Linked DNA regions of Homo sapiens. The protein of the gene in region 1 interacts with the protein of each later gene in a pairwise test. Each region holds a gene or a part of one and is shown on either strand. Other genes may lie near its edges.

Region 1 (4,729 bases):
GGCAGAAGGGTAGGAAGACAGACCAAGGGGACAGGATGAAGAGTCTAGGTACAGCTACACTTGTATAATTACTTGATGTGTGATCGAGGTACCACTGCACTTCACTGAGGAAAGGACTTTTTTTCCCCTAGTTCATGATGCGGGGCAGTTGGGTATCTGCAAGGGGAAAAAATTAGCCCTACCTCATACTATATGCAAAATATAACTTGAAGTGAATTGCAGATCCAAATGTGACAACTCACAAAATATAGTTTCTTTTCTCTTTTCTTTTCTTTTTCTTTTTCTTTTTTTTTTTTTTTTTTTTTTTTTTGAGACAGAGCCTCGCTCTGTAGTCCAGGCTGGAGTGCAGTGGTGTGATCTCAGCTCTCTGCAACCTGCGCTTCCTGGGTTCAAGCGAGTCTCCTGCCCCTGCCTCCCGAGGATCTGGGACTACAGGCATGTGCCACCACACCCAGCTAATTTTTGTATTTTTAGTAGAGATGGGGTTTCACCATGTTGGCCAGGCTGGTCTCGAACTCCTGACCTCAAGTGATCCGCCCTCCTCACCCTCCCGAAGTGCTGGGATTACAAGCGTGAGCCACTGCACCCGGCCCTCACACAATAAAGTTTCTAGAAGAAAACAGGAAAATGTCTAAATGACCTTGGTGAGGGCATGAAAAGTGGAAACATCCTGTTTTCCAAACAGGATACAAAAAGCACCGAGTACAAAAGAAAAGATGGATGAACCAGGCCCACTCCTTAGGTCTCTGAGCCTCCGTGTCTCTCTGGCTTTCATGAGTCTCATGGCTCTGACTGGGTCATGCTCTATTCGGTGCCACTCACACTTTCTCCAAGTTGGTGATGGTGTCTGGATTACTGTGGGCTCCTGTTAACCTCTCTCCTCTTCCCTGCACCTAGTTTTCTGTCCACTTTGGACTTCAGATTGTGATTCCAGCCCCTGAGTGTGCTGCCTGCCATCTGTTGTCTTCCCTCTTCCCCTTGCTGCCACGCGTTTTGTTCTGCACCTGCCCTGAGTGTCCCTTTCCATCACTGCCCTCCTTTGTTTTTGTTTTTGTTTTTTGAGACAGAGACTTACTCTGTTGCCCAGGCTGGAGTGCAGTGGTGTGATCTCGGCTCACTCCAACCTTCTGTTGCCGGGTTCAAGTGATTCTCCTGCCTCAGCCACTCTAGTAGCCGGGATTACAGGTGCCCACCACCACGCCTGGCTAATATTTGTATTTTTGGTAGGGGCGGGGTTTCACCATGTTGCCCAGGCTGGTCTCAAACTCCTAACCTCAGGCGATCCGCCTGCCTCGGCCTCCCAAAGTGTTAGGATTATAGGCGTGAGCCATCGTGCCCGGCCTACCACACATTTCTTTCTGCACCTGCCCTGACTGTCCCTTTCCATCTCTTCCTCTCCTTTGATTTTGTTTAAGAGACAGGGTCTTGCTCTGCCTCCCAGGCTGGAGTGCTGTGGCACAATCAGAGCTCACTGCATGCAGTCTTGACCTCCTGTGCTCAAGTGATCCTCCTACCTCAGCCTCACAAATAGCATTTAACTCTTTCTGATTTAATGTCCCACTAGACCCTGGGTTTGTTTTGCTCTGTCGGGCCCTCTTTGGGTGCCTTTTGCGCCTCTTTCTGGGTGTTTTTCCTTACATCTCTCACCCGCTAGGTTTCCTTTCATGGCCTCTTCTCTGCCTCCTGGGGCTGCTGTAACCACGCACTCTCCTCCCTCTCTCCACAGGGCATGCCGCCGATGACTCAGGCGCCCCGCATTATGCACCACATGCCGGGCCAGCCGCCCTACATGCCGCCCCCTGGTATGATCCCCCCGCCAGGCCTTGCACCTGGCCAGATCCCACCAGGGGCCATGCCCCCGCAGCAGCTTATGCCAGGACAGATGCCCCCTGCCCAGCCTGTGAGTATCTAGTCCCACCCACCAGGTCTCATATAAATAGTGAGAATACAGGACTAGAAAGGGACCAGTTGGGGGGCTGCTGTAGGTTGGGTGGTCTGGGCAGGCCCCCTGAGGAGGTGGTACTGAATGAGGAAGTAGCAGTGGGGGTGGGCCCTGGGCAGAGGAATTGGCATGCTGGTTGGAGGGTACGGAAGGTTAGGGTAGGCTGGAGTGGTGCCAGCACCTAGATTGATTCCATGAGCTATTGAGCGCCTCCTTACGTGCCAGGCCCCGTTCTGCACTGTAGGGCTGCAGCAGGGACTGAGATAGAAACCTCTGCTGTCCTGTGGCCTATAGTCTGTAGGGGCAAAGAGGTGGGAGGCAGACAGGCAACAGACAACAATATGTGGTATGTTGGGTGGAAGTACCAGAGTGAATTCAAGCAGGGTGAGGGATGGAGGAAGTGGCAGTACTATGGGTCTCCCACTGGACTCAGGGCTCTTGTGCTCACCGACTCCCCTATACCCCCGCAGCTTTCTGAGAATCCACCGAATCACATCTTGTTCCTCACCAACCTGCCAGAGGAGACCAACGAGCTCATGCTGTCCATGCTTTTCAATCAGTAAGTGGGGCCTGTGGCTGGGTGGTCCCTGGAGGGTGATGGCCAGGAGGCATCTCCATGGAAACAGGCCTCAGAACTCTGCCAGCAGAGCTCTGAGCCAAGTAGGGCTTTGCAGAAGGGACAGCGACCAAAGATGTGAAAGGAGGAGGCTGTGGCTGGGCCCACGGCCTGTGGGGGACATGGGGGTGAGGCTGGAAAGGTCTCCATGGCCAGGGCTTGCCGGCTTTTTTCAGCCTTGTTTGAGGGCTGAGGGAGTCCAGGCTCTGGGCCTCATTTTCCCAGCCCCTAAAATGGGGGCATGCAAGGCAAGGTATGTGTAAAACTGCATTGAGATGTCCTTGAACATTGGCTAAGACTGGCAGAAGTCAGCGTGCTCAGAAACAGCAAGTGTGGGAGATGGGGATGCGTGAAACTCTTGTGCCTGGCGTCAGGGTGGAGGCCGGTGCAGCCGATGTGTAGAGGGGCTGTTCACCATTGTTGAGTGAAGTCGTGGGTGTGGGTGAGTTCATCTGGTGGTTCTGTTTCAGGGGCTGTGAGTGGGGCATTCGTCAGTGTTTGTGGTGGGGAGTTGGAGGGTGTCTGGGAGAAGGGATGGCTACATGCAGCATCTCACCATGCTGCACTGCGTGGCACTTAGAAGAACAGAAAGCGCAACTTTATAATAGTGCCGAGAGAAGATTGTGAGAACCTGAAAAATACAGAAAAACAATACCACATGTGCAGCCTGTCCACAAAGCTGTATATTTTGTGAGAATGCCGATGGAAAAAAGGATACCTAGTAAACATGAGGATGGCTGCTTAATGGAGAAAGAAGTATGGAATGAGAAGAGGGAAATTAGAGAAACAGCATATCAGAAAAGTGAGGGTAAGGCCGGGTGCGGTGGCTCACGCCTAAAATCCCAGTATGTTGGGAGGCTGAGGCAGGTGGATCACTTGAGGTCAGGAGTTCGAGGCCAATGTGGGCAACTTGGTGAAACCCCTTCTCTCCTAAAAATACAAGAATAAAAATGGAAAAAGTGAGGGTATTGGTTATTTTTTTGGTGTGGCGGGTGGGTTATGATTTAGGAAGGGCCCAGGAGACTGCGGTGTACTGTTTCTTGATTTAGGTTGCAGTTGCATGGGTGTTTGTGTTTAAATTTTTCATTAAATGCTATGTTTACATTAGAGTTTTTCAACTTAGTACTATCTGCATTTTGGGCTGGATAATTCTGAGTAATGGGGCCCTGCCCTGTGCATTGGAGGCTATTTGGCATCATTTCTGGCCTCTGTCCACTTGATGCCGTTACGTTAGGGGGAAATGCTGAGTCCCTGAGGTCTGTCGTTCTCTTTCAGGTTCCCTGGCTTCAAGGAGGTCCGTCTGGTACCCGGGCGGCATGACATCGCCTTCGTGGAGTTTGACAATGAGGTACAGGCAGGGGCAGCTCGCGATGCCCTGCAGGGCTTTAAGATCACGCAGAACAACGCCATGAAGATCTCCTTTGCCAAGAAGTAGCACCTTTTCCCCCCATGCCTGCCCCTTCCCCTGTTCTGGGGCCACCCCTTTCCCCCTTGGCTCAGCCCCCTGAAGGTAAGTCCCCCCTTGGGGGCCTTCTTGGAGCCGTGTGTGAGTGAGTGGTCGCCACACAGCATTGTACCCAGAGTCTGTCCCCAGACATTGCACCTGGCGCTGTTAGGCCGGAATTAAAGTGGCTTTTTGAGGTTTGGTTTTTCACAATCATTTGTCTGTCTGATTTTCTTGCTCTTCATGGTTCCTTTCCCTCCACCTCAGCAGCACATCCTGGGTTTTTGGACCTCTTGGCATTTTGAGGTTTGCAACCTTGGGGAAACATAGGATAGTGTAGTAATATTGTTCAAACTCAGGTTACAATGACTACTTTGGCAGTTTTGTATGTTGTCCCAATTCACAGCAGGAAATGGAATCCTGGGTCAGGAAATGGAAAGTCAGGGCTGCCGCGTACAGTTAGGCAGGATGGGTACTGCACAAGAATGGCACCTTTTAAGGGCACACCATTCACTTTGTAGGCTTACAAGTTTATGCCACCACTTTTCTAACAGATGACAAGAGTGTTCAGGGAGAGGTGTTTCTTCACCTTTTTTTTACTCTTCTCAAAAGTGCAGCCTGTTGTAGCAATGGCCCCAGAGAAACCACAGTAGGTAGTTCAAACAGAAAGGAATTTAATACAGGAAACTTGGTGCTGCTGAAATCATGGGGCGTGTGGGTGGTAGGA
Region 2 (3,463 bases), about 25 Mb from region 1:
CTGATCCAGGTTCGGTGAGAAGGAGGCCTACATGGGCTTCATGAATAGCTTCCTGGAGGAACATGGACCAGCCATGCAATGCTTCCTGGACCAGGTAGCCATGGTGGATGTGGATGCTGCCCCCAGTGGTTACCAGGGCAGTGGTGATCTGGCCCTCCAGTTAGCTGTCCTGCATGCCCAGCTCTGTACAATTTTTGCTGAGCTTGACCAGGTATGGCCTGAACCCAGAGTAGGGAGGCAAGAAGGCTTGGGAGACTCTGACCCTGGAGACTTTGCTCAGTCTCTGTCCTGCATGCCTCACCAGACAACCCGAGACACCCTGGAACCACTGCCCACCATCCTGCGAGCCATTGAGGAGGGCCAGCCTGTGCTTGTGTCAGTGCCAATGCGTCTCCCACTGCCCCCGGCCCAGGTCCACTCCAGGTAACCTCAAGTCTGGTCTGGGGTCTGATGGGTGGGAACAGGAAGGAGCAGGGCTCAGACAGGGGTCAGAGGTGAAGTTGGATCATTGTGAGCAGAGGTCAAGCCCAGGGTCAGACGGGAATCACAGGTTATAGAAAGGGTTGGGTCAAAGGTCACAGTGTGTTTGAGGTCGGGGATGAGAGGAGAGGTTAGGGTGGAGAGATGTCAAGGGTCATAGAGAGGACAGTATTATAGTCAGAAGTCAAGGACAGGAGCCAGGCTCAGTGGCTCATGCCTGTAATCCCAGCACTTTGGGAGGCTGAGGCAGGAGGATCACTTGAGGCCAGGAACTTAAGACAAGCCTGGGCAACATAGGGAGACCCCATCTCTACCAAAAAAAAAAAAAATTACCTGGGTATAGTGGCATGTGCTGGTAGTCCTAGATATTTGGGAGGCTGAGGCTGGGGAATAGCTTGAGCTCCAGAATTCAAGGCTGCAGTGAGCTATGATCTAGCCACTGCACTCCAGCCTGGGCGACAGAGCAAGACCTTGTCTCAAAAAAAAAAAAGAAAGGACAAGTTCACGTGGGGGGTGAGGTCACTTCTGGTCAGGTCGGGATGGGGTCGTCTCAGGGGCCAGTGGAGGGTCTAAGATCCTCCATCCCACCCCTAGCCTCTCCGCAGGGGAGAAGCCCGGCTTCCTGGCCCCCCGGGACCTCCCCAAGCACACCCCTCTCATCTCCAAGAGCCAGTCTCTGCGCAGCGTTCGCCGCTCAGAGAGTTGGGCCCGGCCACGGCCGGACGAAGAGCGGCCCCTGCGGCGGCCCCGGCCGGTGCAGCGCACGCAGAGTGTCCCGGTCCGGCGTCCTGCCCGCCGCCGCCAATCTGCGGGGCCCTGGCCGCGACCCAAAGGCTCCCTGAGCATGGGACCAGCGCCCCGCGCCCGGCCTTGGACCCGGGACTCCGCCTCGCTGCCTCGGAAGCCGTCGGTACCCTGGCAGCGCCAAATGGACCAGCCGCAAGACCGAAACCAGGCACTGGGCACGCACCGACCTGTGAACAAGGTAAGGTCAGGCCCAGGTCCGCGCCTGGGGAGTGGGAACAGGGACGCGACTGGGGAAGACTGAAGGGCCAGGCAAGTCTGGGTTCAAGTACCCAGCTCGCTGTGCTGTGTGACCCCAGGCCTAGCCCGACCCTCTCTGAGCTTCAGTCTCCCCAGCTGTACCGCAGGAGGGATGTTCCCCAACTAGGCAGGCCGGTGATGACGCTGAGCGCTTGGGCCTGGGAGGTCAGGGTCTCCGGGGAGACACAGGGGCGGGACAACGGGTCAGATTACAGCTGCTCTCCCACCACAGTTGGCAGAGCTGCAGTGCGAGGTGGCCGCTCTGCGTGAGGAGCAGAAAGTGCTGTCCCGCCTCGTGGAGTCGCTGAGCACCCAAATCCGGGCCTTGACGGAGCAGCAGGAGCAGCTGCGGGGCCAGCTGCAGGATCTGGACTCCAGGCTCCGTGCTGGGTGAGCCCAGCCCTCTCCATTAGCTCCGCCCCCAGGTGGGCCCGATCCAATTAGATCTGACCAGGCCCTCCCCCCCCCCCCCAAACCACGCCTAGCACGGCCAAGCCCCACCCTGGCCCCGCCCCAATAAGTCTGTCCAGGCCCTGCCTCTTGGCAAGCCCCGCCCCCAGGTGGACCCACCCAACGAAGGTCGGCCTAGGACCCTGGCAGATTCTCTCATCCAGGCCCCACCCCTCCATCAGCCCCTCCCAACCTGGCTGGGCCGGGCACTGAGATATCTCAGCCTGGGCACTCCCTCCAGCTCAGTCACGACCCCACCCAGGACTGGCCAAACCCCACCTCCAAGGGATGATTGATAGGTCCTGTCATTCCAACCATTCCCGTCTCTGGTCCGACCCTTCTTCAAGCATATTTAGGCCCCGCCCCTCAGTCTGGACAAGCTCCGCCTCCACTCCAAGCTCCGCCCCCGGAGTCCCTGGCACTCCCACCAGGAGCTGGAAGGGACTTCCTTAGCCTCTGCCCTTCGCCCCAATCCCCCGACCCCCACAGGAGCTCAGAGTTTGATTCAGAGCACAACCTAACAAGCAATGAAGGGCACAGTCTGAAAAACCTGGTGAGATTGCCATCTGAGCCCTGGGGCAGGTCTGGGCGGTGGAGGAGCAAGGGTTGCGGTGCAGCCCTCTCCTGGTTTCTGAACCCCATCACCACTGCCTCCCCAGGAGCACCGCCTAAATGAGATGGAGAGAACTCAGGCTCAGCTGAGGGATGCTGTCCAGAGCCTGCAGCTTTCTCCAAGGACGCGGGGGTCTTGGAGTCAACCCCAGCCCCTCAAAGCACCCTGCCTCAATGGAGACACCACCTGAGCTGCCCATCCTGCCTCATCACACGTGGTCTGGGAGCAGAGAGATAGCCATCTTAGGGGGGGTGTCTGACTTTGCCTTAGCCCTACTTGGCCTACAGTGGGGAGTGGAGCTGCTGGTCCCAACCACTCTGGCAGTATGAAGTTGCCCAGTAAAATCTTGATTTCAGTGAAATTGGTGGTTTCTTTGCCCACTAAGAATTGCCAATTCTTAGGCATTTGCCCCGCAAGCCCTATTCATCTCTCCCAAATTCTCCCCTAATTAGAAGTCTCATGGAGAGGGCCATGTACACAAGTTCTCACCAGCTGTGTGACCTTAGACCTTCATTCTCTTAAGAGCCCGTTTTCTTATCTGTGAAATGGACGTAAAGTTCCCTACACAGTGAGAGGACCCATAGTTAAAGGCATTCGATAAAAGGTATTCACCATTGTTATAGGCAGCACCTGCTTCTCAATGAAGCATGGATTCCACCCCTGGCAACCTCCCAATCCCACAGTGAGAGCATCTTCCTAGGCCCTCCTCATGTCACGGAGGCCATGGGTCTGGGAGGCGGATAAAGGAAGGGGGTCAGGTGTGGAGATGGTTGGATACTGTGTATGAATGATTGGGTAAATGAGTCATTCAAATCATGGGTGAGTGGATGGGTGAGGGGTAGAGTGGGTGGAGCAAACGGCAGACGGATAGGTTAG
Region 3 (7,042 bases), about 14 Mb from region 1:
AGCATCCCCTTGCTGTGACAAGCGAAAACCTCTCTTGACATTGCCCAGCGTCGCCTGGGCACCTCAATCACCAGACAGAACCATGCGTCTAAACATGAGTCAAGCAACTCATCCCCACCCACAGCAAGCCAGGCGCAATGTCTAGTGAACGAAGGACACTGCAGGGGCATGGCCTGACCAGGGGCCTCTGGCACCGCGCCCAGTGTGGCCTCAACACAGGTGTCTCCCTAAGCGTTTCTGGTGCTCTCAAAGGAGCTGAGTGGGACTGGGCCTTGTCCTGGTAGACCAGAGGCTGTCTAGATGGTCTCTATGGTGGGAGCACAGCGACAAGCTGAGAAAGCAGAGACCTCAGGGTTCTGAGGAAGCCCAGGGCAAGGAGTGAACTAGGGGGTCCAGGCAGGAGAGAACAGGAGGAAGAGACACACAGATGGGGTGGAGAAGAGGCCCCAGAGGCAGTGAGCTGGGAACAGTGGGGAGAGGGAGAGGAGTGACCCGGAACACAGAGGTGACCAACAAGGAGAGCAAGAGGAACTGGAGAGGGGAGGGCTGAATGGAGAAAGATGATGGGGAAGCAAGGACCAGGACAAGGGTTGGGGGCTGGGGGAGGCCTGCGGCCAGGAGCTGGTCTGAGGGGCGGTGCGAGGCGGAAGGATGGGAAGAGCAAAGGCAGAAGGGAGCTTGGCACCACATACGTTTTGATCATGGCCTTGAGGGCGACCTTGCGCTCCCGATCTGCAAACTTGTCCACGAGGTAGCCAGACATGCAGGGTGCATGGCAGTAGAGCCGGAAAAAGCGGTGGTAGTTGCCCAGGGCCCAGGCTGTCCTTAATGCCAAGGCGTGGGCCACGCAAGGATCTGCCTTCAGTTCTCGTGTGAGGTATGCCAGCTCCGTGGTGATGTCTAGCACCAAGACAAAGAGGGTGAAGTCAGCAGGGCTCAACCCTGGGTACCATGGCCTCTGTCCTGGGGACTGGGCCTCACCTCCCGAGTTCTTGGTGAAGATGTAGTAGAGGATTCGGTAGGCAGTAAACTCGCCCACATTGCCAGGCAAGTTCTCGGCGTACAGCGACTTGAGCTGCGTCTGGCACTGGTTAAACTCTTCATGGTCACCCTGGAAGGCAGAGGCACCGAGGGAGGAGAGCAGAGTGAGGGTGCTGAGGGCAGAACGGCAGCAGGAAAGGGGCTGGGGAGGCCCGCAGAGGCCAGCTCACCTTCTCCAAGGCGATCCGGGCATGGGTCTCGTACACCTCCACCGTGAACTCGGTGCGGATGCCCTGCACCTGGGGCAGCGGGGCGAGAACAAGAGTCACAAGGAGCGGGAGGCAGGACTGGCTGAGGCCAGGCCCCTCCCAGCGCGAGTCTCACCGTCAGATCCTGCCGGATCGACTTCATCTGCTCGCAGGCAAACGCGTAGTCCTGCTTCTCTTTCCAGTGGCACTTGACCATGCACAGCGACTTTTTCAAAACCTGAAAAAGGGAACTGAATTCACACTCGGAGTACAACTCAGGTAGCGTGGCCAACGGCTTCCACTTATTTGGTGGGAGAGTTGCAACATTAAAAAAAGAAAAAAAAGGCCAGGCGCAGTGGCTCACGCCTGTAATCCCAGCACTTTGGGAGGCCGAGGTGTGTGGATCATCTGAGGTCAGGAGTTTGAGACCAACCTGGCCAACATGGTGAAACCCCGTCTCTACTAAAAATACAAAAATCAGCCAGGCGTAGTGGCAGACGCCTGTAATCCCAGCCACTAGGGAGGCTGAGGCAGGAGAATCGCTTGAAGCCGGGGAGCGGAGGCTGCGGTGAGCCAAGATCACGCCATTGCACTCCAGCTTGGGCGACAGAGCCAGACTCTCTCCCAAAAAAAGAGAAAACAAACCCACAAGACATGGGTTAAGAGTGGCCACCTCCACACCCATTTCCCTATAAGCACATGGCTGTTCACAGGTTCTGCAGCAGAACAGTGACTACGCCAAACACTGGAAACACAGCCCCCCACGCCCCACAGCCCACGGGCCTGGGAGAAGGCTTTATGCTCCGTGTCACCTAAGCCAGGAACCACGGCCCAGAGGTCAAGCGATTCGCCGGCCAAGCTGCACACCCGCCACGCGGGGCTCCAGGGCAGCAGAGCGCCTTTGCGCTCCTCTCAGAATGCCGACCAGCCGAGGCGTCTCTGGCCGAGCTTCCCCTGCCATACCAGAGCCCCCGTGTGGCCTCTGCCACCCTCCCTGGGTTGGCTCCCCAAGTCCTGAGCCAGCACGGCCTCACAGAGCAGAACTGCCCTGCTGGGCACTTACTGCCACAGGGCGCACGGTGGACGGGTCGGGGGCACAGGTGAGGCGCAGGTAGTGCTTGGTGATGTCAGGGCAGGTGCCCACGATCTGCAGCTCCTGCCAGTCAGGGTCAGCCCCACTGCTCTCCAGGCTGCTCATCTGCAGCACCAGGGGCTCGAGGCGCAGGCGGCGGGAGTGTCCGTGCTGGAAGCGGGCTGCCCGCTTCTGCTTCTTCAGCTCTCGCTCCGGGTCCTCACACTCCAGCGCCGCCATCTTCTTTCGACTGCGCTTGGTGGGCGCCAGATCGTGCCTAGGAAGGGATGAGGGGCAGTGAGCGCGACAGGCGTCTCCAGCCCCCCTTCAGCCTCGCCCCTTTGGCAGCTGGCTGTCCACCTGTCCGGCCCTCCTCCTCCTTCTCCCATGGGTCCCCAGTACCCTCCTCCACCCTGGCCCGTGTGTCGAGCCCTCACACAGTCTCACCTCTTCCCACGCTGCGCCCTGCCTCGGCCCCGATCCATATGGGCCCCTCGACCGCCCCGGCCCTTAGGGGGCGGGTTCCTGCGGCCCACAGGGTGACACTCATTCCCTGAGTAGGAGCTGTCGGAGTCTGAGTGGGAGTCACTGCAGGAAGAAGCAGGAGGGTCAGGCCTGAAACGCCTCCCCCTCCCTCACACACAGCCCCAGCCGGGAGCCTCAGTACCTTCTGCGGAAGTGGCGCGTCGGGGACCTGGAGGAGGAGCGGGAGCGGGAGTCTGTGCTGGAAGAAGAGCTGTTGTCCTTCATGAAGACGTTGCGGTTGCCAAACTTGGTGAAGCTGTTGCCCCGGGCTCGACCGGCACCCCCAGCCCCGGGCGTCCCTCGCTGGGACGGGGCACCCCCGCCCCTTGTCGCCGAGCCTGCCCCTCTAGGAGGGTGAAGGCTGCTAGCGGCCTCCCACCGCTTCTTCTTAGGGCTCTCAGCCACAGGCTCCCGGGTCAGCCTGAGAATACAGCAGGGCAGGGCGTCACCAACCCCGCCAGACACTGGCAGGACAGCCGCCACCACCTCCCTCAAGGTACCGACCCGCCTCCGAAAGGAAAGGCACTTACCCCAGGCGGCTCAGCTACTACAGTGCAGAAATGAGACGCGAACCCAGGTTTTCCGTCTCCAGAGGGTGCGCTTAACCACTGAGCAATGCACGCCTCTCCAGCACCCATGGTCCCCACCCCACCCCACCGGCCTCCCTCCAACCAGGACTTCATCCCCCCAGGATCCAACTTTCCAGTTCATTTCTCTTTGGAGCTCCTGGTACCTGGGACCCGCAACTCTCCTACCTCCATACCCAGCCCATGCCTCTCACAGCACCACCCTCCCACCTATGTCCCCCACCCAGACTAACCCCGGCAAGGGCTCCCGGCTCCAGTCAATGGTATAGGCCGAGCCGTCCTGCAGCCGCGCCTGCAGCACCTCCTTGAGCAGCTTTTCCGTGCGGTCCTTGTCCTCCTCCGACTCACAGGCGGTGAAGCAGCGCTCCACATACTCTTTCATGTCCTGGGGCCAGTCATCCGGCTTCCCAGACAGGTTCCCCCGGGCAGAGGACCCGCTGCGGGAGGACAGATGAGGGGCTCAGCTGGAGACGATCCCAAACTCAAAAGACCATCCCCACCGCCACTCTGAGCTGACACAGCGGGACGCAGTCCCCAAGTTTTCCTTCTGTCTCCTTCAGTGCTCACAGCAACCCCCAAGAGAGGGTCCTTCTGCCCTTTTCAGAGGCGCACACTGAGGCTCAGGGTGGGCAGCTGGCCAGTGGGACTGGACCATAGACGCTGAGTGCAGAGTGTGGGGCTGCGACGGGGCAAGGGGGCAGACGTCACCTGTGGTTCTGAACTTTCTCAGGGTTGGGCTGGGGGCCAAAACCACTGTGCTGGCCCTCTGCGTTGGAGCCAAAGCTCTGGGTGGTAACAGCAAAGGGTCGCTTCTGGATGTTGAACTTGAGACCTCCAGTCCCAGGGGCGGCTGTGAGGGCAGCGAAAGCTATGGTTAGGCCCTTCCCCGGCACATCCAGGGGTCCCCAGGGGACGGGAGGAAGTGGAAATGCAGGGAGGAGCGCTCAGGTTCTAGAGGAGGGCTCCAGCACACATGTGCCTGGTCCAGAGCAGCCCCACCCCCAGCCTGGCGATCACAACACCCAGAAACAAGGAGCAGCACACACCACGGGCCTCACACCCAGGAGCTCTTATGAGGGCCCAACCGCTCGGACCTCCACGTAGCTCTGCCAACTTACGTTTCATGCGGTTCCACAGCTGTTGGCCCTTCTTGGGCTTGGCAGGTTCGGTGTAGGTGTGTGGCCCATAGGCCTGGCCCGTGGCGGGCCCCGCCTGGCTGTGCTGTGTGGCTGGAGCTGTCCCAGGCTGAGGGCCACTGTTCAGCGTGTGAGCCCCATGTGGGGGATTTGAGGGCTGAGGGGGCTGAGCCGACGGCAGCTGCTGAGGGGGAGCCTGGTAGGACATGCTCTCATCCATGCCGGGGACTGGGGGCTGCAGAAGGAAGCAGGCGCTGAGCACGGGAGGCAGATTCTGGGGCTGGCGAGTGGCACTCAGCCCTCGCTGTGAGGACGCAGTGGTCACAGCACTCAGCACTCAACCCTCCCGTGACCTTCCCAAATGTGAGTTCATTCGAGTCCTCAGTAACTCTGTGAGGTTAACATTTGTTAACAGCCCTTTTCACAGCTGACAAGGCTCCAGCTCAGAGACTAAGCGACTTCCCAGGGCCCTAAGCTATGAAGCGGCAGCTGGCAGCGTTTCAATGCTGGAGTAACAGCCACCGACAACACACCCACTCCAGCGCTACCATCTGAGCACAAGACACCCATGAGCACACACACTCATGGAGCCCAAGGATGAGGCTACCATCCTTCCCGCTTTCGAGAGCTGACCGAGATGCGTAATTACACCAGGGGTGGGACAGCTGGGATTCAAACCCAGGTCTACCTGCCTCCTGTGCACTAGCCCGGCCATTCCTCCAAGCTGCACATTCAATGCAAAACCCAGCCGGTGTGTGCACGCCTGTGGGTGACCATGCTAGGGAAAAAGATGAGATGTCTTTCAACATCTCAGCCCTGGCCTTGGCTCAGCCTTAAACCCACCCCAGGTTCAAACACTATGCTCTGTCCTCCTCATTTTCAGATCAGGAGTTGCTTGGAAGGAAAAAAGCAGCTTAAGGAGTACAAGCCATTCCTCATTGACAGCTCATTCAAAAATCTACACTTCCTCTGCTTGAGCAGGGTATGGGAGCTGGGCTAGGATGTTACCTGGTTCAGAGTCCCTTGGTGTTGGGGTGCGGATGGCTGCTGGGGTGTGGCTGAGCCATAGGAGCCGGCCATCCCATACTGGGAAGGGGAGCCATAGCTCTGGTACATGCTCTGCAAAGGCGCAGGGAGGGAGGGTTTAGTGGGAGGCCTACCCTTTCCGCTTCCCCAGCCTGCTCAGGAACTACACCAGCCATGACCCTCTACCAATCCCTCACCCCTTTCTCTCTTCACTATATTAATGCACCACATCCTCTCATATATTAGGAAAAGAAAAACCTCTATCAATCCCACATCTCACTTAGCTAGTTCTCGGAAGAATATAATCAACGATACTGAGTGCCAACTCTTCTAAGCACTACGACAGAACAAAAGGAAAACCCATGCTGTAATGAAGCTTGTGCTGGAATTACATGTCCGGCTGGAGACATCAACATGTAATACATCCAGCAATAAGGATCATGAAACAATAAGATGGCAAAGAAAGGGAGAGGGACAGGCTGCGAGGCAGGAATGCTACTTTCAATCAGTGTGTCAGGTAGAGGCTCTCTGAAGGCGGCATCTGAGCAGAGACCTCCAAGAGGCGGCAACACAGGGAGCACTGCAGCCAGGGCAAAGCGAGAGCGGGCCTGGCGGGTGCGGGCATCAAGGAGGTCTCTGCTTCGATGGCCATGGCAGAATGAGCATGAGGAGAGAAGGGACCAGAACCGGGTATGTAGGACCTTGTGGCTCATGGCGGGGACCTAGGAATTTACCTCCTGGGCAAGTTAGAGGGTTTCTGAGCAGTTATCACTGCGATCTCCAGTCCATCCACCACCCAGCCCCATCCCGGCAGACTCCACTTCACCTCGCCCCGACCCAGCAGACTCCACCTCGCCCTGCCCCGCCCCACTGGCTGGGCACTCACCATGGGATAGTAGTAGCTGTAGGGGTAGGCATAGTTGTACTGCTGGTACCACTGGTAGTACTGCTGCTGCTGCAAAGCTGAGGCTTCTGCCTGGGACACGTACTGTGGAAGCAGAGGCACATGTGCCGTCAGCAGCCCAAATCCACAGGCACACGGCCCCCAAAGGGCAAGCCTGTTTACTGGTGGCCAATTGCCAAGGGATGAAACTGGGTCCATGTATCTGCAAAGTGAGCCACTGTCTCTACCATGAGACTCACGCACGTTAGAGACCAGGGGCATGGGCATGGCCTCCCTCTTCAGAACCACATCACGCCCTAATTTCCTCAAGGAAACAGAACTTTTTCCCGTTCAGATTTAGATACCCTGGAACGTCTTTTCATGTTTCCCCTCAGAGCACCCCGTCTGAATGATACAACAGGACGCCAGACTGTGTCCCTCCCACAACCTCTGGCTCAGGGTACCCCAGCCCCATGAGGCCTTCTCACCTGTGCACTGGCCACAGGCCCATTGCTGCTGGACTTGGCAGAGCCGCCGGCAGCTCCTGACTTGCTGATGCTGGCCAGGGCCTGACGGGCCTTCTC

What was found. The genes of interacting proteins can lie anywhere in the genome.
Region 2: the proteins of SNRPA (region 1) and RASAL3 interact in binary tests that used the Homo sapiens proteins (3 or more experiments, as listed by UniProt).
Region 3: the proteins of SNRPA (region 1) and LENG8 interact in binary tests that used the Homo sapiens proteins (3 or more experiments, as listed by UniProt).

What each region holds. Positions count from the first base shown.
Region 1 is NC_000019.10:40,761,175-40,765,903, forward strand, and holds the end of SNRPA (U1 small nuclear ribonucleoprotein A), read left to right. Parts: intron 1-1,726; coding exon 1,727-1,900; intron 1,901-2,412; coding exon 2,413-2,501; intron 2,502-3,833; coding exon 3,834-3,993; 3' UTR 3,994-4,215; downstream 4,216-4,729. UniProt on the Homo sapiens protein: Component of the spliceosomal U1 snRNP, which is essential for recognition of the pre-mRNA 5' splice-site and the subsequent assembly of the spliceosome. U1 snRNP is the first snRNP to interact with pre-mRNA.
Region 2 is NC_000019.10:15,451,109-15,454,571, reverse strand, and holds the end of RASAL3 (RAS protein activator like-3), read left to right. Parts: intron 1-9; coding exon 10-211; intron 212-304; coding exon 305-423; intron 424-1,074; coding exon 1,075-1,465; intron 1,466-1,756; coding exon 1,757-1,914; intron 1,915-2,321; coding exon of another isoform or gene 2,322-2,427; exon of another isoform or gene 2,428-2,463; coding exon 2,464-2,527; intron 2,528-2,633; coding exon 2,634-2,777; 3' UTR 2,778-2,948; downstream 2,949-3,463. UniProt on the Homo sapiens protein: Functions as a Ras GTPase-activating protein. Plays an important role in the expansion and functions of natural killer T (NKT) cells in the liver by negatively regulating RAS activity and the down-stream ERK signaling pathway.
Region 3 is NC_000019.10:54,452,172-54,459,213, reverse strand, and holds part of LENG8 (leukocyte receptor cluster member 8), read right to left. Parts: coding exon 6,947-7,042; intron 6,564-6,946; coding exon 6,462-6,563; intron 5,669-6,461; coding exon 5,558-5,668; intron 4,785-5,557; coding exon 4,532-4,784; intron 4,264-4,531; coding exon 4,122-4,263; intron 3,851-4,121; coding exon 3,647-3,850; intron 3,248-3,646; coding exon 2,969-3,247; intron 2,890-2,968; coding exon 2,749-2,889; intron 2,579-2,748; coding exon 2,293-2,578; intron 1,468-2,292; coding exon 1,366-1,467; intron 1,281-1,365; coding exon 1,212-1,280; intron 1,112-1,211; coding exon 982-1,111; intron 901-981; coding exon 693-900; coding exon of another isoform or gene 308-692; exon of another isoform or gene 1-307.